Linked DNA regions of Homo sapiens. The protein of the gene in region 1 interacts with the protein of each later gene in a pairwise test. Each region holds a gene or a part of one and is shown in the gene's direction. Other genes may lie near its edges.

The links.
Region 2: the proteins of LMO2 (region 1) and ZNF410 interact in binary tests that used the Homo sapiens proteins (3 or more experiments, as listed by UniProt).
Region 3: the proteins of LMO2 (region 1) and ABI2 interact in binary tests that used the Homo sapiens proteins (3 or more experiments, as listed by UniProt).
Region 4: the proteins of LMO2 (region 1) and TSEN15 interact in binary tests that used the Homo sapiens proteins (3 or more experiments, as listed by UniProt).
Region 5: the proteins of LMO2 (region 1) and IFT43 interact in binary tests that used the Homo sapiens proteins (3 or more experiments, as listed by UniProt).
Region 6: the proteins of LMO2 (region 1) and C1orf94 interact in binary tests that used the Homo sapiens proteins (3 or more experiments, as listed by UniProt).
Region 7: the proteins of LMO2 (region 1) and CBY2 interact in binary tests that used the Homo sapiens proteins (3 or more experiments, as listed by UniProt).

The regions. Positions count from the first base shown.
Region 1 is NC_000011.10:33,885,577-33,889,076, reverse strand, and holds part of LMO2 (rhombotin-2), read left to right. Parts: intron 1-3,500. UniProt on the Homo sapiens protein: Acts with TAL1/SCL to regulate red blood cell development. Also acts with LDB1 to maintain erythroid precursors in an immature state.
Region 2 is NC_000014.9:73,921,359-73,924,858, forward strand, and holds part of ZNF410 (zinc finger protein 410), read left to right. Parts: intron 1-707; coding exon 708-848; intron 849-1,340; exon of another isoform or gene 1,341-1,378; intron 1,379-2,036; coding exon 2,037-2,164; intron 2,165-3,343; coding exon of another isoform or gene 3,344-3,445; exon of another isoform or gene 3,446-3,461; intron 3,462-3,500. UniProt on the Homo sapiens protein: Transcription factor that binds to the sequence motif 5'-CATCCCATAATA-3', and is specifically required to silence expression of fetal hemoglobin in adult erythroid cells.
Region 3 is NC_000002.12:203,397,894-203,401,393, forward strand, and holds part of ABI2 (abl interactor 2), read left to right. Parts: intron 1-3,500. UniProt on the Homo sapiens protein: Regulator of actin cytoskeleton dynamics underlying cell motility and adhesion. Functions as a component of the WAVE complex, which activates actin nucleating machinery Arp2/3 to drive lamellipodia formation.
Region 4 is NC_000001.11:184,068,730-184,071,720, forward strand, and holds part of TSEN15 (tRNA-splicing endonuclease subunit Sen15), read left to right. Parts: intron 1-1,886; exon of another isoform or gene 1,887-2,003; intron 2,004-2,991. UniProt on the Homo sapiens protein: Non-catalytic subunit of the tRNA-splicing endonuclease complex, a complex responsible for identification and cleavage of the splice sites in pre-tRNA. It cleaves pre-tRNA at the 5' and 3' splice sites to release the intron.
Region 5 is NC_000014.9:75,988,763-75,992,262, forward strand, and holds part of IFT43 (intraflagellar transport protein 43 homolog), read left to right. Parts: intron 1-122; coding exon 123-215; intron 216-3,500. UniProt on the Homo sapiens protein: As a component of IFT complex A (IFT-A), a complex required for retrograde ciliary transport and entry into cilia of G protein-coupled receptors (GPCRs), it is involved in ciliogenesis.
Region 6 is NC_000001.11:34,217,269-34,219,631, forward strand, and holds the end of C1orf94 (uncharacterized protein C1orf94), read left to right. Parts: intron 1-1,417; coding exon 1,418-1,493; 3' UTR 1,494-1,863; downstream 1,864-2,363.
Region 7 is NC_000013.11:45,701,046-45,705,119, forward strand, and holds the start of CBY2 (protein chibby homolog 2), read left to right. Parts: upstream 1-1,274; 5' UTR 1,275-1,345; coding exon 1,346-1,420; exon of another isoform or gene 1,421-1,470; intron 1,471-1,729; coding exon 1,730-1,810; intron 1,811-2,465; coding exon of another isoform or gene 2,466-2,546; intron 2,547-4,074.

The DNA.
Region 1 (3,500 bases):
TATTAAAGATCCATTTTCTCAGTTACAAAGATCCAAGACTCCTCGAGGGTATTCTACCCTAACGGAAATAGGACAGGCTTTGTAGTCAGACTTGAACCCTGGCTTTGGCGACTACTAGCTGTCCTGCCTGGAGAAGTTGCGTACCCTTCCTGAGCCTCAGTTTTCCCTTTCATTGAATCAGGATGATAATACACACTTCATTCATCCACTCAGCAAGTGTTTACTGGGCGCCTCATACACAGCAGGAACTGTTCTAGGCACTGCGGATACGTAGACGTCAACAAAACAAACATTGCTCTTGCCTGAAAGGGGCTTACAAACTTGAGAGGGGGAGACAGACACCAATCAAATAAGCAAGTACACATATAGTATGCCAGATGGCAATATGTGCTAGGGAGAAAAATAACACAGAGTGAGGGAAAATGGAATGCGCTGGCCCGGGTTATTAGTGTCTTACTCAGGTGATGAAGGAAGACCTTTCTAATAAGAAGAACTCACATCTGGGGAAGAATGTTCCCGGAAGAAGGAGAAGAGCAAAGGCCCTAAAGCAAGAGTTTGAAGAATGACAAGGGGTCCTGTGTGGATGAAGCAGAGGGAGGGAAGGAGGAAGGGAGTGTAAGAGAAGGGGACACAGAGATGGCTAGAGCCAGATATGCAGGGCCTTATAGGACTTTGGCTTTTTACTCTGGGCAAGAAGGAAACCTTGGGAGAGCTTCAAGCAGAGGAGCGAAATGATCTGATGCAGGTTATGAAAGGATCCCCCTGGCAGTGGCACAGAGTATGGCCCCTGACCTGTGTGGATGGGGCAGAAGCATAAGGCTGGCCATTTGCATCCCACAAATGACCTCAGTGTGAGGGATGAGCGAGATCATATACGAATGCGCTTGCGTGAGTATGCATAGAGCAAGTGCTCAAGCCATGGCAGCTTCTATCAATGGCCCTGCAGCTGCCTGGCTATAGCTCCCTGGTCTCCTGCAGACAAGTCTTGGCCAGTCACGTGAGTGCCTCTGTCATTGCCCACTCAGTCATTCCCCCTGCCCCCACCTCCTTTCTTCAACCCTTCACTGGTGGTTAAGCTCCTAGCACAGCAGCCTCACCTCCAGCCTCTCCCCACCCCAACCCAACCCAAATGCAACTCCACTCACATCCTTCCCCTGTTCAAGAGTCTTCCATGGACTAGTGGCTCATTAAATCCACATTCTTGGCTAGGTGCAGTGGCTCACACCTGTAATCCCATCACTTTGGGAGGCCAAGGCGGGCAGATGGCTTGAGCCCAGGAGTTTGAGATCAGCCTGAGCAACATGGCAAAACCCCATCTCTACAAAAAGCAAACAAACAAACAAACAAAAAACAAAACAAAAGAACAAAACAAAAATTAGCCAAGCGTGGTGGCACACACAGCTGCTTGGGAGGTTGAGGTGGGAGGATCACCTGAACTCAGAAGGTCAAGGCTGCAGTGAACCACAGTATCACCACTGCACTCCAGCCTGAGCAACAGAGCAAGACCCTGTCTCAAAAAAAAAAAAAAAAAAAAAATCCACATTCCTGGAGACTTGCAGCTAAGGCCTTCCACAATAAGATGCTGCATTTACGTTTCCCACCCATAATCAACTGCTATCCCAAACATATTGAATATCTGTGGAGAAGTATGGGTGGGTGCAATATGTCACTCCTAGCAGAATCACTGAGGAAACTGACCACACTCATGATGGAAAATTGACGGTAATGAGTCCTTCCCTCAGGTTCCCCAACCCCACAATATGCCCTAACCATGGTGGACATGTATTCCTGTCTGTCACTGGCTCACTTCTCCCACCAGGCTACCGCAAACTCCACAATGATGTATATTCTCTTAAAGCTACAAAATGGCTTGTGGTTTCCAAATCAGTTTTCCTTACTGCTCTTATCTCCCTTGATACTTGCCCCTATGGGCCCCTCATCCATAATAAAATGCCCTCATTTTACACTTACTAGTTCTGACAAGAGTCCCAGGTTCCAAGTCATGGATTCCCATGTGGGATTGCTCCTCTGATCCTTCATTCCTATATCTTTTTTCAATCTATCCACAATTCACAAGGCATCGGTGTCAGACCAATGGCAAATAATAAGTGGGACCTGCTGGCTATGGATGGAAGAGCGAAGTCCCTGACAACATGTTTCTACCAGCCTGGAAATGAGGCTCTCCCATCCCCTAACACATCTACCAGTTGTGATGGATTTAAAGGCTGGCTAATGTTAAGCTTGTTCCACAGGGGATAGAATATTGGCCCCTGGACTGACACCTACCACCATGTGGATCTTGGAGCAAGACAAAGGAGCCCCCCAACATTCGTGTTCTGAAATAACAATGCCTGAGGCTGTCTATTCCCCACCACGGATGCCAAAGCACAGACAGCCACTCACAGCTGTGGGATACAGATGCCCCTGTCATTATAAAAGGCCAGCCCTAAATGCTATTACAGAGTCTAAAAACTGAAAATGTTATTGTGAAACCTTTAGGTTTTTTATAGCTGGCTATGCCTGATATAGCTGGTGGCCTGGGACACAGTTTCCCTACTCAGCGCTGGGACACCTCGGCAATACTGCACCCACAGTGTCATCCCTATCTGTTTGGAATGTACAATTCTTCTACAACACCATGGGCCAGGAATATCACATCATCCTGAGAAGCCATCAGGACAAACAAAAAGGAATGTGGTCCTGTATGTTTAGTCCCACCTCCCCTACAAACTACTTTTATCATAGAAATGATGCCCAATTGTCAGCCCAGCGCATGTGGTGTCCTCCAGCACCCCTTCTAAATGTGCCCTCAAGCACCCCTTCTGCTTTGTGCATCTTTGTGACACCCTTCCAGATGTCAGCCTATATCTCCATGACCCAAATCTGACTTAAGAGTTGTGGCCGGGCATGGTGGCTCATGCCTGTAATCCCAGCACTTTGGGAGGCCAAGGCAGGTGGATCACCTGAAGTCAGGAGTTTGAGACGAGCCTGGCCAACATGGTGAAACCCCGTCTCTACTAAAAATACAAAAAAATTAGCCAAGCTTGGTGGTGGGCACCTGCAATCCCAGCTACTTGGGAGGCTGAGGCAGGAGAATTGCTTGAACCTGGGAGGCAGAGGCTGCAATGAGCCAAGATTGTGCCATTGCACTCCAGCCTAGGTGACAAGAGCGAAACTCTGGCTCAAAAAAAAAAAAGGTGTACCAGCCCAGGGAGACAATGGCCACATTGCAGGTGATGACCACAGCCCAGCCAACCACTGCATCCTGGAGGCTGCCCACCAGTTACCCACATCATCTACCAAGGGACCCCCTTGCTGGAGCACAAACAGCTTCCCTTGGGGGATCCCTCAATCAGCATTTGTCACATACCTGAAAAGGGTGGCCACCACACAGGCCACCAAAGTTATAACTCTCTCCTCTCACTTCCTCCCCATTGGGCACAATAAACCTCATTGCCATTGTGGCTGGAACTTCCCTTCCTGGGCCTCCCAAAGCAATT
Region 2 (3,500 bases), on another chromosome or scaffold:
AAGATCCTAGAATCTGTAGTTTTAAAAGTTTCCCTAGTGAGTTTGATGGTAACTAGTGCTGATCCATGAACAAGCATTTGAGTAACACAGTGATAAAAGATTTCCACATGGGAAGAGTTTAAGCTTTTTAATTTTTTTAGATGGAGTCTTGCTTTGTCACCCAGGCTGGAGTGCAGTGGCGCCATCTCGACTCACTGCAACCTCTGCCTCCTGGGTTCAAGCAGTTTTCCTGCCTCAGCCTCTTGAGTAGCTGGGATTATAGGCAGGTGCCACCACACCTGGCTGATTTTTATATTTTTGTAGAGACGGGGTTTCACCATGTTGGCCAGGCTGGAAGCATATTTTATTTACCAGTCATGACTACCTTTTTGCCCTGCCTGAAATTTGATAACTCTTTTTAATTCTTATTCCTTCGCCATATCTTTCCTTAATTATTCCAAATATTCCTTTCTAAAGATCCACCTATCCTGTTTCATATGCTAATTCTTCAGACGCTGAACACAAGCAAGGATCATTATCTTCTAAGGCTTACTCTTTCCCTTCTAGGTTTATTCTTGTTTCTCGAAAGTAGGTGAAATAGGGGGTGGCATCCCATCTATAGGTTAACTTCTAGTAATGAAAGAGAAGGCCAGCTTCTGTTGAAAGAAAATGAGGACCAGGCACAGCCTTGATTGCTGTATGTCTCTCACAACCTATTCTCTGTGCAGCTGAGCCACTAATGGGCAGTAGTTTGCTTGAAGAGGCTTCAGTACCCAGTAAAAACCTGGTGTCTATGAATTCCCAGCCCAGCCTTGGTGGAGAGTCCTTGAACCTACCAAATACCAATTCTATCCTGGGAGTTGATGATGGTAAGACTTCCAACTCTCCTTTATTTGGGAAAAATGGGCTGCAACTAGGGGCTAAGGAATGGGGTGTCTCCACAATGTATGTTTAAATCTCATTTCTTATGAGTAGCTGTGGTATGAGTAGCATTTGTGTTCTTATTCTCTGGGGTGGATTAGTCAATCTGTTTAAAAAAAAATTTTTTTTCATTGAAGATAATATAATAAAAGAATAAAAAGAAAAAATTCTTAAGAAAAAATTATTCCTAATCCTAGCATCCTAGCCCAACTATTTCTATCTTTCCTATTGCAGTTATGGAAGAACTTAACTTTTAGAACATTTAAACAGAACATAACCAGGTTTTACAGAGGAGATATAAAGCAATTTCTCCATACCTTCAAAAGCCATATCTTCTGGAGAAAAGAAAGGGCTCTCTAGGAAACACTTGCTCCTCTCTGGTATAGAAATTTCACCCAAGTTACACAGGCCAGGCCCTCTTCTCTGAAAAACTTAACAGGTGAGGTCAGCATGCATTTATTCAGTGCCTACTGTGTGCCTGGCACCATGGGAAAGACAAAAGTAGAAGATAGGGACCTTAAAATCCAGTTGAGAAGTGAAAGCTTACATATATATGGGAAAGAACATTGAGTACATAAAAGATAGTATATAAGCCAACATTAAATTATATGGTACAGCATAAAATAGTTGTATAATCTAGAAAACCCCTAGAAGAAACTTCTAGTTTTTTGAGGGCTAAGTGGTATATCCATAAACTATTTCCAGAAGATTTTCATGGTGATCCCACTGATGAACATTTAGTAACTGTGAGACCCTATGTTTTTGTTACTCATATCATATTCAGTTAGTAAGTGCTATTAGTATCATTGGCGACTGCTTTTAAGGGTGGCTTTGGTTCCCTTACCTGCTTGCCTAAGACTTTTGCCTGTTTCATACATAGTTTTAATTCAGTTAAAAGTGCTAACACCATATTATTCTAAATCCTGTATTAAGATTTCTTGCCTTTCTATTCTCTTTTTATATTACTTTCCAAATTCACTGATAATGCTTATCAGACAGGATTAACTTGGAAGAAATAGAGGAATGTGGGAAATAGAGGAATAGAGTTTTAGAGTTGTTAATGAGAGGCTTAATGATCCAGATAGGTGTATCTCTGGATTCACTTTTCATTGAAACATTTTTCTGTTGCTTCACAGAGGTGCTTGCTGAAGGATCCCCACGTTCCCTGTCTTCAGTGCCTGATGTGACACATCACCTGGTGACCATGCAGTCAGGGAGGCAATCATATGAAGTTTCTGTCTTAACTGCAGTAAATCCACAAGAGGTAAAGTGGTCTCTTGCCCTTTGTTTCTGTGACAATTCATGTGGGGAATGATTGAGAATTTAGAGGACCTGAAAAAGTCTCCAGTTTCCATTTCCTGGAAACTTTGGCACGAATATTTTCCTTTAAATTAAGCATGAGTTCAGCTTGAAAGGAGCCTGAGGGTTAGGGTCTTAATGAATTGGAGATTGGTCTGTCACAGCTGGGACTCCCGGCTTTAAAGTTCTTTTATATACATTCCTTGTTGATGTCTGTTCCCACTATTCTCTGCCACACTATAACATGATACAGCTTTTATTTTATAAAAGCACACAGCAGGCACTGAATAAATGCATGTTGACCTCACCTGTTAAGTTATTCAGAGAAGAGGGCCTGGCCTGTGTAAATTGGGTGAAATTTCTGTACCAGACAGGAGCAAGTATTTCCTAGAGATCCCTTTCTTTTCTCCAGAAATAACATCCTGGAAAAAGTCCCTCAGCAAAAAAGGTAGTAACAAAATCATTAAACATAATTATTGTTCATTCTGCTATGGTCATATGTCTGGGAGATACCAGGCTTAACCAAATGGGCATATACAGATTTGTTCACTTGCTTGCTAAGTGAGAACCATTACCTAAATCAATGGTCTCCAGCCTTTTTGGCACCAGGGACCGGTTTCGTTTCACCTCAGGTCATCAGGCATTAGATTCTGATAAGGAGTGCGCAACCTAGATCCCTCAAATACACAGTTCACAATAGGGTTTGCGCTCCTATGAGAATCTGTTGCTGCTGCTGATCTGACAGGAGAGGTGGAGCTCAGGTGGTAATGCTTGCTCACCTGCTGCTCACCTCCTGCTGTGTGGCCTGGTTCCTAACAGGGCACGGACCAGTGCTGGTCCATGGCCTGGGGGTTGGTGACTTCTGATCTAAACAAAAAGGGTTTGAGGTTGAGCTAAAGCACTTTCAACTCTGTAGTTTGGCTTTGACTCAGGAAACAGAATGCAAAGTGGTCAGTGTTTTAAAATCTTGGGATATTTCACTGGTCTTGTGTCATGGGAGTGGATGACTTCATCACGAGCACATTTCATATGCATAAACTTTTGTCAAAACCTCTGTAGCTTGGATCCTTTCAGTATTACATTAGTTTTTATGGTGCTCTTCCGTCTTTTCTCCTCTTTTCTTTTCTTTTTTTTTTTGAGACAGAGTCTCGCTCCGTTGCCCAGGCTGGAGTGCAGTGGTGCGTTCTCGGCTCACTGCAACCTCTGCCTCCCAGGTTCAAGCGATTCTCCTGCCTCAGCCTCCTGAGTAGCTGCTACTACAGGTGCGTGCCACCACGCCCAGCTAATTTTTTTGTATTTTT
Region 3 (3,500 bases), on another chromosome or scaffold:
TCCAAGGGGGATGGTGTTAAACCATGAGAAACCGCCCTTGTGATCCAGTCACCTCCCCCTAGGCCCCACCTCCAACATTGGGGATTACAATTCAACATGAGATTTGGGCAGGGACACAGATTCAAAGCATATCAATCACCGTAGTGTTCCACTTGCCAGTGAAGAACTTCATGGCATTTATATTCAGCTTTGCTGTTATACATGTTAAACATATATAAGATCTTTACATGTTTTAAAAGACACTTTTAGCCAAAATGGATTTTGGGTGATGTCTTGTGGGATTCCTTCTATATGACTTTTAAAGAAAAGCTTTCTGCAGTAGATAAATGTAAACATGGGGTGTTTTTTGATCCAGATACAACTGTTAGGCCAAACTAACTAGTTAAATATAGGAATCTCGTTATGCTCCTGCTTTGATAAAGAATGCATCAGAAAGGACAAATCACCCCCAACTGAGAGTCTATGTTTTAGTAATTAAATATTAATTGAATAACAGGTGCCTGGCTCAGTGTTCACTAAATAAACATTTGTTATGTGAGGGGATAATTAACTGTGGTTTTTAAAACAAAAAGCAAGGTAAATGTCTTATTAATAATTTATATCAGGATAGTCTGTTTTATACAGTACCTGAGTTACCAAGCAATTGTTTTTCTTTTTACCAAGGTATAACTTATGTACAGTAAAATTCACCCTTTATACCATATATGTTTGTGAGTTTTGGCAAAGGTGTACTGACATGTAATTGCCACCACAATCAAGTTACAGAACAGTCCTATCATCGCAAAAATTTCCTCCATGCCCCCTTTATAGTCAGTCCTTCCCTTCCACTCCCAGCTCCTGGTAAGCCCTTGATGTGTTTTTTTTCTCTAAAGTTGTGCCTTTTTAAGTATAACATAAATGAAAGCATATAGTATGTAGCTTTTTTGATCTGTTTTTTTTGGCCAGATGCATTTGAGAATTACCCATGTTGTTGCATGTTTAAGTATTTCATTACATTTTATTGCTTAGTAGTGTTGTATTGTATGGGGATGTACCACAATTTGTTTATCCCTTTCTCAGAGGACATTTAGATTTTTCTAGTTTTGAGTGCTTATGAATAAAGTTGCTATAAACATGTACATACAGGGTTTTTTTTGTGCACATGGGTTTTTATATCAGGTAAATACCTAGGGAATAGAATTGCTGGGTTATATTGTAAGTAAATTTTTAACGTCATAAGAAACTGCCAAGTTGTTTTCCAAAATGGCTGTATAATTTTACACTCCCAGCAGCAATGTGTGAGTTTCCAGTTGCATCCTTGTCAGCCCTTGGTGTTGCCTTTTTTAGCTTTAGCCATTCCAATACATGTGTAATGGTTTCTCATTACATGTGTGGTTTGGATTTGCATTTTCTTAATGACTAATGATATTGAACATTTTTTTCATGTGCTTATTTGCCATGTGTATATCCTCTTTGGTGAAGTATCTGTTCAAATGTTTTGTTCCTTCTCACCTTTTTAATAGGGTTTTTTTCCTTATCATTGAGTTCTTTTATATTCTAAATATATGTCCTTTATAGATTATGAGTTACAAATATTTTCTTCCATTTTGTGATTCGTTTGCTTATTTTCTATTTTTTTGGCGGGGGGAGGAGGGGCGGGCGGACAGAGTTTCACTCTTGGTGTCCAGGCTGGAGTGCAATGGCAGGATCTCAGCTCACTGCAATCTCCGCCTCGCGGGTTCAAGCGATTCTCCTGCCCAGCCTCCCAAATAGCTGGGATTACAGGCACCCACCACCATGCCCAGCTAATTTTTGTATTTTTAGTAGAGACGGGGTTTCACCACGTTGGCCAGGTTGGTCTTGAACTCCTGACCTCAGGTGATCCGCCCGCCTCAGCCTCCCAAAGTGCTGGGATTACAGGCGTGAGCCACTGGGTCCAGCCTGTTCATTTATTTTTTTGATGTTGTATTTCAAATAGCAGAAATTCTTCATTTTTATTAAGTGTTATTTTTCAAAATTTTTTTAAATGAATCGTGCTTTGATGGCATATCTAAGAACTCTTTACCTGAAGTCATAAAGATTTTGTTCTGTGTTTTCTTCTAGAAGTTTTTAGTTTCAGGTTTTATCGCTAGGTTTATGATAATTAGGTATATATATTTTTAAAACCCCAAATGGTAAATCGACTCATTAATAGTGTGAATAGTGTCTTTTTTTTTTTTTTTTTTTTTTTTTTTTGAGACAGAGTCTCACTCTGTCACCCAGGCTGGAATACAGTGGCAATCTCGGCCCACTGCAATCTCCGCTGCCTGGATTCAAGTGATTCTCCTGCCGTAGCCTCCTGAGGAGCTGGGATTACAAGTGTGAGCCACCACACCCAGCTAATTTTTTGTATTTTTAATGGAGACAAAGTTTCACCGTGTTGGTCAGGCTGGTCTTGAACTCCTGATCTGAAATGATCCACCCGCCTCCACCTCCCATAGTACTGTGATTAAAGGCCTGAGCCACCATGCCCAGCCCATGTGAGGTTTTAGACTAGATCTAACTATATAAAATTCATAATGATGTTAATCCAGATGTTTTTAACTTGATCGTAGGTTTGTATTAGTTTGCTATAGATTAATTACTGAAATGCTAATTGTATTCAGTGGTTCAAATAACTAAATATGCCTTTTAAATCATAGTTTATATGTTTTCATTTTTATCATGGTTACAGAGGCTTCTCAGTTGATAGTGGATTATGTTTAAGCTTGAGTGCTTAAGTTTTTGATACACATGTAAGATGTTTAAATGTTATAACAAGCCTTGAGTGCTCTTATAATCCTTATATGACTCCATATGAATCTAAGCTTGGTAAACTTTCAGCTCCTGTAGAACAATTTTAGTCATATAAAACCATTTTATAATCATAGACAAGATGAAAAATTGTCAAAGTGTTGTTTTCCTCTAATACTTTTAATTAAAATTACCAAGAAGATAGTCTCATATTAAGGTAGAATAAAGATGGTAAGACTCAGCTGAGAAATATGAAGCCTGGAAGAGGATATGACTGCAGTGTTTGATCATGAAGATTTCAACAAATCAAGCATTCATCAAATTCCATATTACATAAGTCTTATCTCACTGTGTTTCAAGTAGTTTATTTTAGAATTTAAAAAATTTCAGGATAACCTTAGGCACAAATGGATAGATGAGTGTGCCAGGTATCATCTGTTCCTCCAGTCCCCCCTCCTCTACTCTCCCCTCTTCTCCAGTAGGCTGACCTCCATGAAATGTTTCAGTGGATTCTTTTGCCCTCTGGCTTCCTGTTGGGTTTAGCAAAAGTGTTTTTTTTTTCCTTTTCACTTATCTCCTCCTTTTCTCCCTTTCTCTTTCTCCTTTCCTTTCCCCTCTGCTATCCTCTTGCCCTCCTCCACCTTCATCTCCTCCTCCTCTACCTTCCTGTCCCCTTTCCGCTTTCTTCTCCACCTGCTTATTTCTCCGCCTCCTCTTCTCTCTTGCCCTCCCCTTCTCCCTTGTCTGCT
Region 4 (2,991 bases), on another chromosome or scaffold:
TGACACCAACTTAATTTTGCATTATGTTTCAGAGTTGCATTATGGCATGTCATTCCATTATATCATAATGAGGCAAATCAAGGAATTATTCCCTTTTACTAATAAGGCTATAGCATATATTATTTGGCCACATTGAAGAGGATAGGAGATACTTTCTATGGGTTGAAATTAATACTACTTTTAACCCATGATACATTCTATTTCAATAGCATTTGAAGTTAAAAGTAATGCGGTCTTCAACTTCTTGTCCTCTGTGTAAATCTCCAGAGATTACTTAGTATCTGTTTCAGAATCATTACAGAAAAATCAATGCTAAGATTTATGGAAAGCATTTAAATAGCTTGGACTAAAGGTATTAGCCAAATAGTGTTAACTGTGTATTTGCTTCAGGCTTGTTTTCAAGTTAGCTATATGAAGCTCTGGAATCACTTTTTTTCAGTACACAGAGCTCCTCTATGAACAGTTATGAGAAATAAAAACCTGTTGTGAGCATCAAATTTTGTTGCTGTTATTAAATAGCTATTATTATTGATACATATTTTTCTTTAGGTGGGATTTTTCCCTTTAGATATAACTGAGTTTAAAACTTGAAACTGTTAGTATTAATACATAGGTTATATTTTTCATAGGTTGATTTCTATCCAATATGAACTATAAAGAATTTTATCGTTTATTGTTGTAGATTTGTGTGATGAAACATACAATATTTCCAGTATCTTCACAATATTTTTCCAAAGAACTGAGCTATTAAAATTTATACATATAAGGAAACATTCTGTCATTTCTAAAGTGAGATTTCAAACCATAAGCTTGTTAGAAATTAAGTGAGATTATAGTATTCTGGTGATACTTAAATGTTCTTGGGATCTTTACAATCATATGTGGTTTTTTAAGAACTTAAGAATCTTTTGTTACTGCTATTATTAATAGATTGGGAAAATATAATCTGTTGACTAAAAGGCAAAATAAACATTTTTAAGATTTTATGCAGTATCCTATAATGGAAACAAACAAGAAAGGTCTTGTTCTTGTTTGTTGAGGAAAAGATGATGGCTTTGCTTTAAACATACTTGAAAAATCGACTAGAAGAGATCCTGAACAAGAAACTGTAAGACTTCTGGAATGTACCTTGAGTAACAGAGGCAGATAAACTATTTTATTCTGTTACTAGTGAGAAGATTCACTGGTAATTCACAATCACCGCCCCCTCCAACCAAATACCATAAACAAGGCCTCAGAAATGGGAACTTCCATTTCATTTTTGACAGTGATTTCTCTCAACTCTGAAAACAAAACCCCTTTTACAACTCTGAGTTAGTTTTCAAATGTTAGGGTTTCCTGCATGGGTATTTGGGGTAAGTATGAAAATGTTTTGCTGCTTAAATCAAAGAACTCTGGAAACAGATATAAATTGAGAATGGAAAAAGAGTAGTGAATAAGATGGAAATTTCTATTCTAAATTTCACTATATGGGCTACAATTCCCATATAGTTTTCCTTAGTGAACACCACCCCCCAACACACACATACAAACACACCTTCTGATTTAAATAACATTATATCTTCAGAAATGGAAAATGTGTTAAAGTTGTGTTAACAGGCTTCCTTCTTGTCTGTGTCCCATTCTCATCACAGTCTACCAGTTAGGGATGTTTAGAGAAATTTATCTTGTGGCATTGAAGTGGCTTTATGTGCATTATATATTGGGTTTTATGTATATTGCATACTGTGAAGTAATCATGATACATGCTGACAACAAAAGATGTAGATAAGTTAAAATTTTAGTTGATCCATTGTCTGTTTCTTCTTTGCCATCTTTGTAGAAAAAAATTAATTCAAGATGGACAGCCTATAAAAATGTATCTTTTTCTATTATTATTAATTTAGATATTGGCGTGCCACTTTTGAAGAAGGAAAATACTTAGCTACATTAAAAGATTTGCATTGAAGAAGCAATTGTGATATGCTGCCTTTTATCACAGTGTGACTTCCCATCAGTGCTGAGTAATGAAGTTTCTGATTAATATCTATCGTTGCTTTATCAGAATATCTTTCTCTAAAGTAAATCATTCTTGTGAATAAGAATCTAGCTAGTTGTAATGCAGTTCAGCATAGGTGGAAATAATTTTTTAAGGACTAAGTCAATTTCTGGGATTCAGACTGTTTCAGAAAAGAAACATTTTCTGTATTTCCACTAATGGCACAGTGTACCTTAGTATGTTTGGGTTAGTATTCAGTTTTAGCAATAATCATGGAGGCAGGGGTATCTATAAATATTATATCCCAATTTGCAAGGTAGCAAAGTTGTATATATACTACATAATATGACCACTTGACAGTTTATGAAGTCTTTTCATATATGCCATTTAATTGATTCATATAATAATCTTATGTGTAAACATAAAGGTGTACTACTATCTTCATTTCAAGTATCCTTGAAAAGACTTTCTCCATTGAATTGCCTTTGTACCTTTGTCAAAAATCAACTGACCAGCCTTATAGCACGTTAAGAAGTAACTTATATGATGTTATTAACACAAAGGATGGGGGAAGGAATGAAGCTATATTGGAGTAAACAATGACACCAGACAGTTATGTGAAGAAATGAAGAATACCAGGAATATTAAATATGTGAATGTAAAAGACCCTAATATATTTTCCTTTCTCCTCTTAACTTTATAAAAAGAAAATTATTTAAAGTAATAATTACAACACTATATTACTGGGTTTAAATATATAAACATATATGACAATAATAGCATAAAGGTGGAGGAAAGGAATAAAGCTCTATTGGAGCAATTTCTATATTTTTTAGAATCAAGTTAGTATTAAGCTGAGAGAAATTGTGATAAACTAAGACGCAATAGTAATCTCTAGAGTCATCACTACGAAACTCAAGAAACTATAGTAAAAAAAAATACATTAATTAAAATGGTGTACTAGAAAATACCTATTTAATAGAAAAGAAGGTGATAAAGGAGGGTGAGAGGAA
Region 5 (3,500 bases), on another chromosome or scaffold:
CTGCCTCGTCCTCCCAAAGTGCTGGGATTGCAGCTGTGAGCCACTGCGCCCGGCTGGATTGTCATCTCAGTAGTGGCCCAAATGACATTTGGGTCAGCAGTGCCTTCTGTTTCTCCTTACAGAGGGCCAAGATGGGTCGCCGAGCTCAACAGGAGTCAGCGCAGGCCGAGAATCACCTCAATGGCAAGAATTCCTCTTTGACTCTGACTGGAGAGGTGGGTGCTAAAAAAAAAGAAAATCTGAAGAAATACTGTTTAAGAGTTAGTGATTCCTTAATGACCAAGGATTTGGTATTCCATATTTCTTCTCTTGAATGCCAACCCTTTCTCCTGTCTTGATTTGGGAATTCCCTTCCTTGGCATTTGTCCTTGTAGCAGGAAATGGAAGAACTTTTTTTCCTTGATGCCAGACTAGTTTCTGTGCATTTCCTTATATTCTTAATGTAGAACTTTTTATGTTAGCTGAAGCAAGGGACTGGGAAGTTTCAAAATCCAGTAGGATTCCAGGTTTTTATTTCCGCTGAATAAATGCCAGTGAGGCAGACTGGTGACGTAAGGTTGGATTACACAATTGGACATTGCTCTCGGTGGTGACCTGCGCTTTCTACAGTCTTCCGGCAGGAAGCAGATCATTTACTGGCCTTACTTTCCTGGAAACTTTTCCGAGTAGCCTGGAATTATGGGAAATGATCCAGCTTCTTTGTGGAGGGTGGGTAATTCTGATGAGCAATACTTTTTACTGCCAGGGCACTACTTTTGGCAGCTTACTCAGAGCCCCTTTTTACCTTCCTCTGTCCATTTGAAAAAACTTTGCAAAAGTCAGCCTCAGGGTCATCCTCTGCCAGAAGTTAGCTCTTCTCTAACCTCTCCAGGCTGACTTAGCAGTCCTTCCTTTCACTTCCCATAGTACCTATTGTGAACATATGCCATTATATGTGAATTGTCTTTTTACATGTCTGTCTCCCCCACCGGACAGTGAGTTCCCAGACAGCAGGAAACCTGGCTTCTAGCTTGCTGGCCCATAGTAGGTTTGCAACAGATGAAGAGACCCATGCTGAGAAGCCTAATGGGTCAGGCAGGTGCATGAGCAAATGAACCGGGTACCTGACATGGACACACTTCACTTACATATCACATAGGTAGGAATATTCTTCATTTTCGTAGGAAATGCATTCTCCACCACTTTCTTAAGCTCTCCACATGGCCTTGTCCATTTATCTTTCATTTTCTCCTTTTAGAAGTGTGGGTATGGAGAATCATTACTTTAAGATAACATCTGTGCTGGCCTAGAAAAACTAGCAGCTGACCCCTTGGCATCACTGCCTGGAAGAAACTAGGGGAGTGAGTTAGGGCAGGGGGACTGGGAACTGGAGGCCACATGCCCCCTCTAAAGGGACAACCACTACTTAGCCAAAGCTGGTTGGTGCTGTCGAGAATACAGGCCCAGTATTGCCAGATATGATTCTTCAAGAGATGCTGGCAGTCTAAAATTTTATGTGAAAGCAACACATTTTTAGAGGTTAGCACCTGATTAAGAAAACCTAATCACCATATGGACTGGATATTAAATCATCATATGGGCTGGATTTGGTCCAAGGATTGTCAGTTTGTAACTGCGGCCATGGCACCTCCATTGTGATACTTATTACATTGTATTCTAATTGTTTACATATCTGGTTCTCTCATAAGATATGAGCATCTGGAAGGCAGAGGTTGTGTCTTATCATCGTACCCTATTATCTGTCACAGTGCCTGGCAGAATAGGCCTGCAATTGTTATTGCGCAGGATGAGGTGGGGTCAAGTACATAGTGTGTGATGTACTTACACATTAGAAGCTATGTAGAAGTGTTATGGGGCCTGGGGCAGGGAGGTTGGGAGGCGAGGATAGTGGAGCATTGGAGGCACAGTTAGGAGAGGTGATATAAAGTAGGAATTTGGTGAAAGAAGATATACCAGACCCAACCCTGGATCTCAGGGAGCTTGAACTGCAGTGGTGTATGTATTTAAAGAGAAAACGCGGAAGCAAATGACTGAGCTGATGGAAGCCAATTCTTGGCCTCTGGCACTTTACACTGTTCCACATGGGTCCAGGAGGATTAATTCCAACACCAGATCATTCATTCATTTACTCAACAACTATTTATTGAAGCACACAGTAAGTGCCAGGCACCATTTTGCAGGGTTGGCATATTTCAGTGAACAAAAGAGACAAGATCTCTTGCCATAATGGAAGTTACATTCTCGTGATCACTGGCACCCAGGAAGAATAATTAAAAGTCTACTTAAGGCTAGGCACAGTGGCTGATGCTTGTAACCCCTGTAACCCCAGCACTTTGGGAAGCCAAGGCAGGAGGATTGTTTGAACGTAGGAGTTCACGACCAGCCTGGGCAACCTTGTCTTTGCAAAATATTTAAAAATTAGCTGGGTTTGGGTGGCATGTGCCTATAGTCCCAGCTACTTGGGAGGCTGAGGCAGGAAAATTGCTTGAACCCGGGAGGCGGAGGTTGCAGTGAGCTGAGATCTTGCCATTGCACTCCAGCCTGGGCAACAAGAGTGATATATACATAAATATATAATTAACAATAAGAGTATATATTATATATATATATATAAATATTAACAAGAGTGTGTGTGTGTGTGTGTGTGTGTGTGTGTGTGTGTGTATGTATGTATATATATTTTAAAGTCTACTTAATTGTGAAGGAGGTTATAGCCACCTATGGTAGTTAGGTGAATGAGCCTGTGATGACCTCATTAGGCCTTGAAGCCTTATATGACCCCCATACCAAATCAGCTCCTAGGCTGGGGTCAGTGGGCCCTGCTTGCCTACCATCCACTTCCCTTGGCTCCCATGTGAGAATCATTGCTGTGAGAATATAACTCCATAGTCACAGAGTGTGATGAATCCTTTCAGGGTTTCAGCCATTCAGTAATACCTACTTATTTCGAGGTTTACCTTTTTTTAACTCTGTGCATTACCATTTTTGTGGGAGAACATGATGAAAAGTCATTCTGCTCTTCACCCAACTGTTGCCTCTGAAAGCAAGATGCCAGTTAGGATTCCAGGATCCCTTTCTCCCTGGGCTAATTGAGGTTTAAACAGTGTGGGCAGCCTCCCACGGGGCCAGATGCTCACTGTGCTGTGTGGGACTTTTTGGCTGTTTCTTTCTAAAATTAGATCCCAAGACTTGTGTGTGTGCCCATTTACATTCCGATTCTATTACTTGATATATTTATTTTTGTCCTCTTGCTGACTGTATTCTAGGATGAAGATATCCATGCAAACGTAAATATGGTACCTGGGAGCTGTCAGACATGCTGGAGTTACTTTAGACTTAAGTGGAAATTAGTTCAAACACATGGTTATTTTAAAGCGAGGTAGTGGAGTTGGGAGCTCTGGTGAAGGAAGCAGAAAGAACACAGGGCTTCGCACCAGAGGACTGGGTGCTAATTGCCTGGATTGTGATTAAGTCCACCAATCTCTCTAATTCTCCATTTC
Region 6 (2,363 bases), on another chromosome or scaffold:
GATCATGCCGGTGGCCGTTGATCTGATCAGAAGTTCTCAACCTGGAGGACCTAGCTGCATGTGTGCCAATCAGATATGAGCTGTGTCATGATCATTGTTGATTACTGATAATTGTTAAATACTGAAGTATGGGTTACAGCCTTTATTTTGTAAGTCAGAGTGGAAGGCAGGGTATCCCTATAATAACATCATTATGATTTCTGAATGATCCCAATATGATTTCTGAAAGAGAGAAACAGAGGTGGGGTTACCGCTGGCATGGATTGCTTATGAGGGACCCACATTGTGTCAGGCCCTGGGCACATGATATGAAATAGGTAAAGTCTCTGCTCTCTTGGCACTTATTTTAGTGAGAAGCTAGTGAGACAACCCAGCCCAACTTGCCCATGGAGACTCAGTGAGCAAGAGACAGAGTTAGCTGCTGAGGCACTACAAATGAATGCCGTGGTCTATTTCCATTGCTTCTTCCCTCCTCTGCTCCCGCTTTTTGTTTCATCAATTCATAGAAGGGTACCATGAATGTGAATCTCTTCTATAATATGCATCTGCCCAGCTGAAAAGTGATTGAGAATCCCAGGATTAGATTAAATCTAGCCATTTGCTCTATTGTAATTTGTATTGAGTTCTGTTCCCATTCATTCAAAGTATCTGAGCAGATGGGTGAAGAAATTACAGTAGGATTCCAGCAGTGTGAGTAAATGATTCCATCTGGAGAGGTCAGGGAAGTCTTCACAGAGGAGATGGCTTTTGAACTCTATTTTGAAGTATGGATAGGAGTGTGCCAGGGAGAAAAGGAGAGGCGTGTGCATTTCTGCTCTTAGACGGTGAGGCTCACGTCTTAACCCTTCCTTCCCTGAGGGTCTAGCAAAGCCCTAGGCACTCAGTGATGTCTCAATGCTTATTTCTGAGTCAGGGATGGAGTGAAGGGCCTGATTTAGCTTAGTGCTGGAAGGGGAGGAGGGACTCTGGGATTGTCCAGCCCCAAAGACCTTATGCTGGACTTGCCTCTAAGTTCTCTGATGTTGTAGATTTTCCTGAGGGACATGTCTGGTCCTCTAAGGCAGGTAGAGTGGTCACAGGAATACAGGTAAGATGCTTAGGTCCAGAGAGGGTCCCTGTTCTATGGGTCTTGGGCAGGGAGAGAGTGTAGGCTCCATTGAAACAATCTTTACAGGCTCCCAGGGACTTCCTGATCCAAGTAAGCATAAGGAGAAGCGCTTGATTGTCCTCTAATTGTATTATTTTAATATTTTACTTTCCCAGGGCCAAAGCCTTTCTTATGCCAAAGCCTTTACCCTCCAAGCCTGTCATGGTCTTCACTGTTTCTGACAACCATAAAATTAATATATATATTTTTCTAATTCTCTCCGATAACATTAGGAATCTCATCATGGCATCCACCCTCCCTCTCTTCCAGGTTCGGCTCGACATCCGGAGGGCCCTTGATGCACAGCCCCTATTTTTCTTCCAGTGGGAATGGCATAAACTTTTAGATCTCCTCTTCTCCCTTCTCCTCCCTTAGCCCTTGGATCAGGACTAGGGGCTCTGATTTTTGGATTCTGCAAAAGCTTGGTATGAAGTTTGGAAAAGCAAGGTTCTGACCAGGTCACAGACAAAACAGCAAGACCAGATTCATCTATTGGCCAACACTGACACAAAAATAGCCCTCCTCACACATGGCACAAGCTACACACACACACACACACATGACCCTCATATTCATACTTGCTTGCTCAACCACTTATGCATCTATATTTAGCTAACATGAGTGATTTTTGTTTTTGTTTTTGTTGGTAAAATAGAAGTAAGACACTTAATTTTAGAAAGTTTGTATTTTATGATAAAAGTATGAGCTACTTGAAATGGAGTGTGCCTGTTTATTTTTGTGGTGTTCTGTGTAATCTTTACCTCTCATTTTCCCCACGAGACTCAGCGTTTACTCAGGGCATGAAAGGAGACCACAGGCTGGAGTCCTCAGAGTGCTGCTATCTAAATATTGGACCTCAGGGATCATAAGTGAGAGGGCTTATCTCTTTTCCCCTGTGATCCACTCACCTCTCAACATCCCAGTGTATGCATCTCAGGAAGGGACATCATAAACGGAATGCACTCTGTCCTATCCCGAGTGGAAGTTTTCCATAAAAAGTCTCTTTTGGACAAACGATTGGGAAATGTAGCCTGGAAAACAATTTCAAAATTGATGCTAAATGTGGCAGACTATATCCAATGATTGTACATCAGTACCAAGATAGAGGTCAATGTCAAAACTGCACCTAATGGTGGCATCCTTAGACCTGTCTTGTTCAACTCTTACCAATGACTCGAATAAGGACATTGAGAGCAACTTGATCACATTGATGGAG
Region 7 (4,074 bases), on another chromosome or scaffold:
GAAGCAATTTATTTTCCCAAAAGAGAAGTGCCAAGGGAGCCTGAAGTGCCATGGTGGAGAAGAAGGAACCCTATAGTCGAGCCTCTGGACACCCTGGTCTAGGTGGCCACTCAGGATCAGTGCAGGGGGCCTGCACACCACTAGGGGCAACAGTACCTTGGACAGGCTGTTCGTCTCACCTGGGGTTCTAGTTTGTTAACAAGCAAAAGGGGCTCACTGCCCAATGTGCTAGAAGCCAACACTGACACCAAATTTTTGAAAAAAAGAAAAGCTTTATATTAAAAGTCACCTCTGAAGGAGACAGGAGTCAAGCTCAAATTTGTCTCTTTCTGCTGGCATTAAGGCAGTACTTTTATTAGAAAAGGTTCAGGGGGTGGATTCTGAGATTAGTAGGTGATTTGTGCAAGGAAAAGGGAGGTCTGGAAAGTCCTTGGGCATGCATAGTTATTTCTTCATGTTAACTCCTGAGTTGCATGGCAAATTCAGGGAGAGTTAGTATGAAACGTGGTGGAAATTCAGGCTATGACATCAGCAAGCTTATTCTGTGCAAGCTCCAGTTAGCCATCTTGGTTCCAACCAGTTTCAGCCAGGTTTTTCTTGATCTCACAAGTGGAGGGAGTTTCAGCGGCTTAAGTTTCTTTTCTTATCTGCTATCTTGAAACTCAAAAATTAAGTAACTGGTTTCTTACTCTTTGGGACTTTCCAGACCTCCCATTTCCATCCACCAATCACCTACTAATCTCAGAATCCACCCCCTGAATCTTTTCTAATAAAAATACTACCTTAATGTCAGCACAGAGAGACAGATTTGAGCTTGACTCTTGTCTCCTTGGGAGTTGACTTTCAATATACAAGTTTTTCTTTTTTAAAGAACTTAGTGTTTTAGTATTGGCTTCTATTGCATTGGGTAGTGAGCCGCTTCAGCTCTGTAACACTAACTCTGGTAGATAGCATCAGGATGAAATTGAATTGTAGGGCACACAGTTGGTGTCAGAGAATTAAGGAATTGAGTAGTGTCAGAAAACACCTCAGACTACACTTTCTCCCTTGGTATGGGAAGAGTTCAGTTTGTGTTTCTTTCTTCTTGAGTGACCCAACTCCAAGAAGATGCCACTTCTGGAGAGAGAATAGGGATCTCAACTTAGCCTGGCAGTGAGAATACGAATGGCAGCTGGAATGACCCAACAGGGGGCTAATGTTTGGGCTATTGTGTGTGTCACACTGACCCTGACCAGCCAAGTAGTCACAGCACCCACAAGCTCTTCCTGCCTGTCAGATGCCTCATTCCCACCTGTGATGCTCAGAGAGAAACCATGAGCCCTGAAAAACACCATATTGTTTTGTGATGTCACCTCTGGAATGTTCTGAGTGTTTTGGTGACCAACTTCTGCATAGGACCTATACCTGGCAACTCACATTGGTATGGCTTTTTACTTGAGATAGAAATAATCATCTTAGACAGGGAAGCAGGTACAGCTATCTCCACTTCAAAAACTTTCAAAAGCCTTTTACATCAACTATAATATCTAGCTTAATATCTGTTCAGAGATTGATAAACCATCATGCCAGATATCATCTACACGTTCTTTCAGACTCAGACTTTCATAATTGTACATAATTGACAAGAGAGAAATAAATGAGTAGAAAGTTCTGTGTTTTTTAGGCGAGCAATTGAGGCCCAGAGGATGAGCTGGGAAGCAGTAATCTTCTTCTTTTCTCGTTTCCACAGCACTCAAGGCCAAATTATACAAGAAAAAGAGATACCAGATCTGAAAGCCTAGAAATTCCAATCAGTGTGGTTCTACCTCAGGTAGGGATAATCACAGAAGGATGTAACCTATCAGTGTTAGCCAGAATAACCCCCCATCTCCTCCTTCAAAACTCTAGCAAGATGTTGTAGAATAAGCAGAGATAGTCAGGGCTTCAGATTATAGTTTGGGTTGGGTGCCAGCAGGCGGTGTGCTGGGGAAGGCCACATAGCCCCTCTGGGCCTTGGGTTCTTTTTCCCATGAATGAGGTGGCTGGGTCAGATGATCTGGTAAGAACTTCCAGTCCTAACATTCCAAGTTTCTATGATACACTGAAGTAACCCAGCCTTCTCAAAACGAGATCTTTTGGTGCTTAGTGTTGTGCAATCACTCTGGATTTCTGGGGGAGAATTAGAACTGGGACTTGAAATCAAATGCATAAGAATGAATCCATGAGAAGAAAACCTCATCCGTGGACAAAGGGGTACAGAGTTATTTGGAGCTGTCAAGAGAATTAAGCCCTGCTATGCATCAAAGACAGATGTAGGGGCCATGGGCATAGATGCTTTTTCAGTCAATGAATTGGTGAAGTCCTCACAGGCTATAGAGTCTCAGGTCTCCTCCTGCCTGCAATCAGCTGTTTCCTTAGTGGAGTCCTCTTGATTGAATTGTTTCTACTGCTGCTATGTCACAAAGGGGTGGCTTTGCTTTCTCCAGAGTCACCTAAGTCCTCATTGGAAGACCAGGGCCATGCAACCAGAGGGGTTGAAATGTAGGATGGAGGAATCCAATGCAGAGGTAACTATCTGAGAGCTCTGTCCAGGGATGTGTAGGAGGAGGATTGACCACTGGTGGGCATTCCATATATATAATTGTAACAATCTAGGCAAGTATGTTCAGCGGGAGGCAAAAATATGGAAGAAGAAAACATCCTGGATGTTTATTTTCACATTATCTTTATAACTTTGTAATGAACAGTCACTTTTCTGTTACTTTTAGCCCATGAATCTTAGCCAGAATATAAGATAACTTCCCCCTGATCATTCAACAAGATAACAAGCTGTAGGAATCTTTTTGGGCCTGATTCTTTCCACCTGAAATACGCAGGGAGTTGTGTTAGCCACTACTCCCCCAAGAGTGGGTGTTACTGCTGTGATTCCTCATAGCCCATATAAACCAATCTTTTCTTCCAGAATCCTGGGGCCCCTCAACTTTACATGCTTTGAAAGTACCTCAGATGGCTGAATGTTCTCTGATAGTAACCCTCGGTAATGTTAGCAAAGTTGGTGTTTAAGAAACTTGGTCAGGCAGAGGATGCCAACCTAGGGGTGGGTGTGAAGGAGGGGGTAGGATTTGAAAGAGTAGTGGTCATGTGATAGAGAAATTGGAATGATGTTTCCATCAACACCCACCGCAACTTTCCCTCCCCAGCTCCCAGAAACAGCCCAACGATCAAGGAGAAGAGAAGGTGGTTTAAGACAGCTCAAGCTTGTCTTGGGGCTGCCTGCTTCCTGTGCTGGAGGACCTGGTGCTGCTGCTGGGGTCTTGTGGGGCAGAGTGGGTGAAGAATGAGAGGATATCTCCTGTCTGGGCACGTGTACCTCACAAGGGCAGATGCAGCTTCGTGCGTACACCTGCCAAGAGGGCACAAGCCATGCACCAGGTTTTGGACACCTGTCAGGATGCTCAAGACTGGCACTCTGGGGGATGGGTGTGGGTGTCTACAACTAGATGATCCGAACCAAAATACCACCAGGCCTGCGAGAGGGACCAGTGTGCTCACTCTACCTCCCTAAATGAGATGGCACATGGCTTAGGGGACAGGGTTGATCTGGGAAGCAAGGAGAGGAAGAAATATTGACTGAATGTTGGTGCGATCATGTGTCGGGCATGGGGCCAAGCAAGTGTGAGGTAGAGATTTTACAGGTACAGGAACCGGCAACCCCAGGAACCCCACTAGTAATGGCAGAGCTCGAGGAAGGGGCTTGAACTCAAATCAGTGCCCATGTTCTCCGCTATACTAGGGCACATGCCAGTAAGCTGGGCCATGCTGCATCTTAGCTCCATGGTTCTTCTCTTGCTTTTTGGAGATGGAGTCTTCTCCCTGCATCTTAACCACTCATCTCTGGGCTTCTTATTTTGTATTTGCCAAAAGCTGCTCTATTCTGGGATGGAGTCCACTTTCCATTTGTTTCAGAAAGGACTTGTGGCAGCAGCTCTGTCTCCAGAGACTGCCTCTGGCTCCCAGCTGCCAGTCCTGCTGTGCGTTTGGGCTTCTCAATTACATTGGAAATGCCTGTGATCACTACATGTTATCACCCTAAGG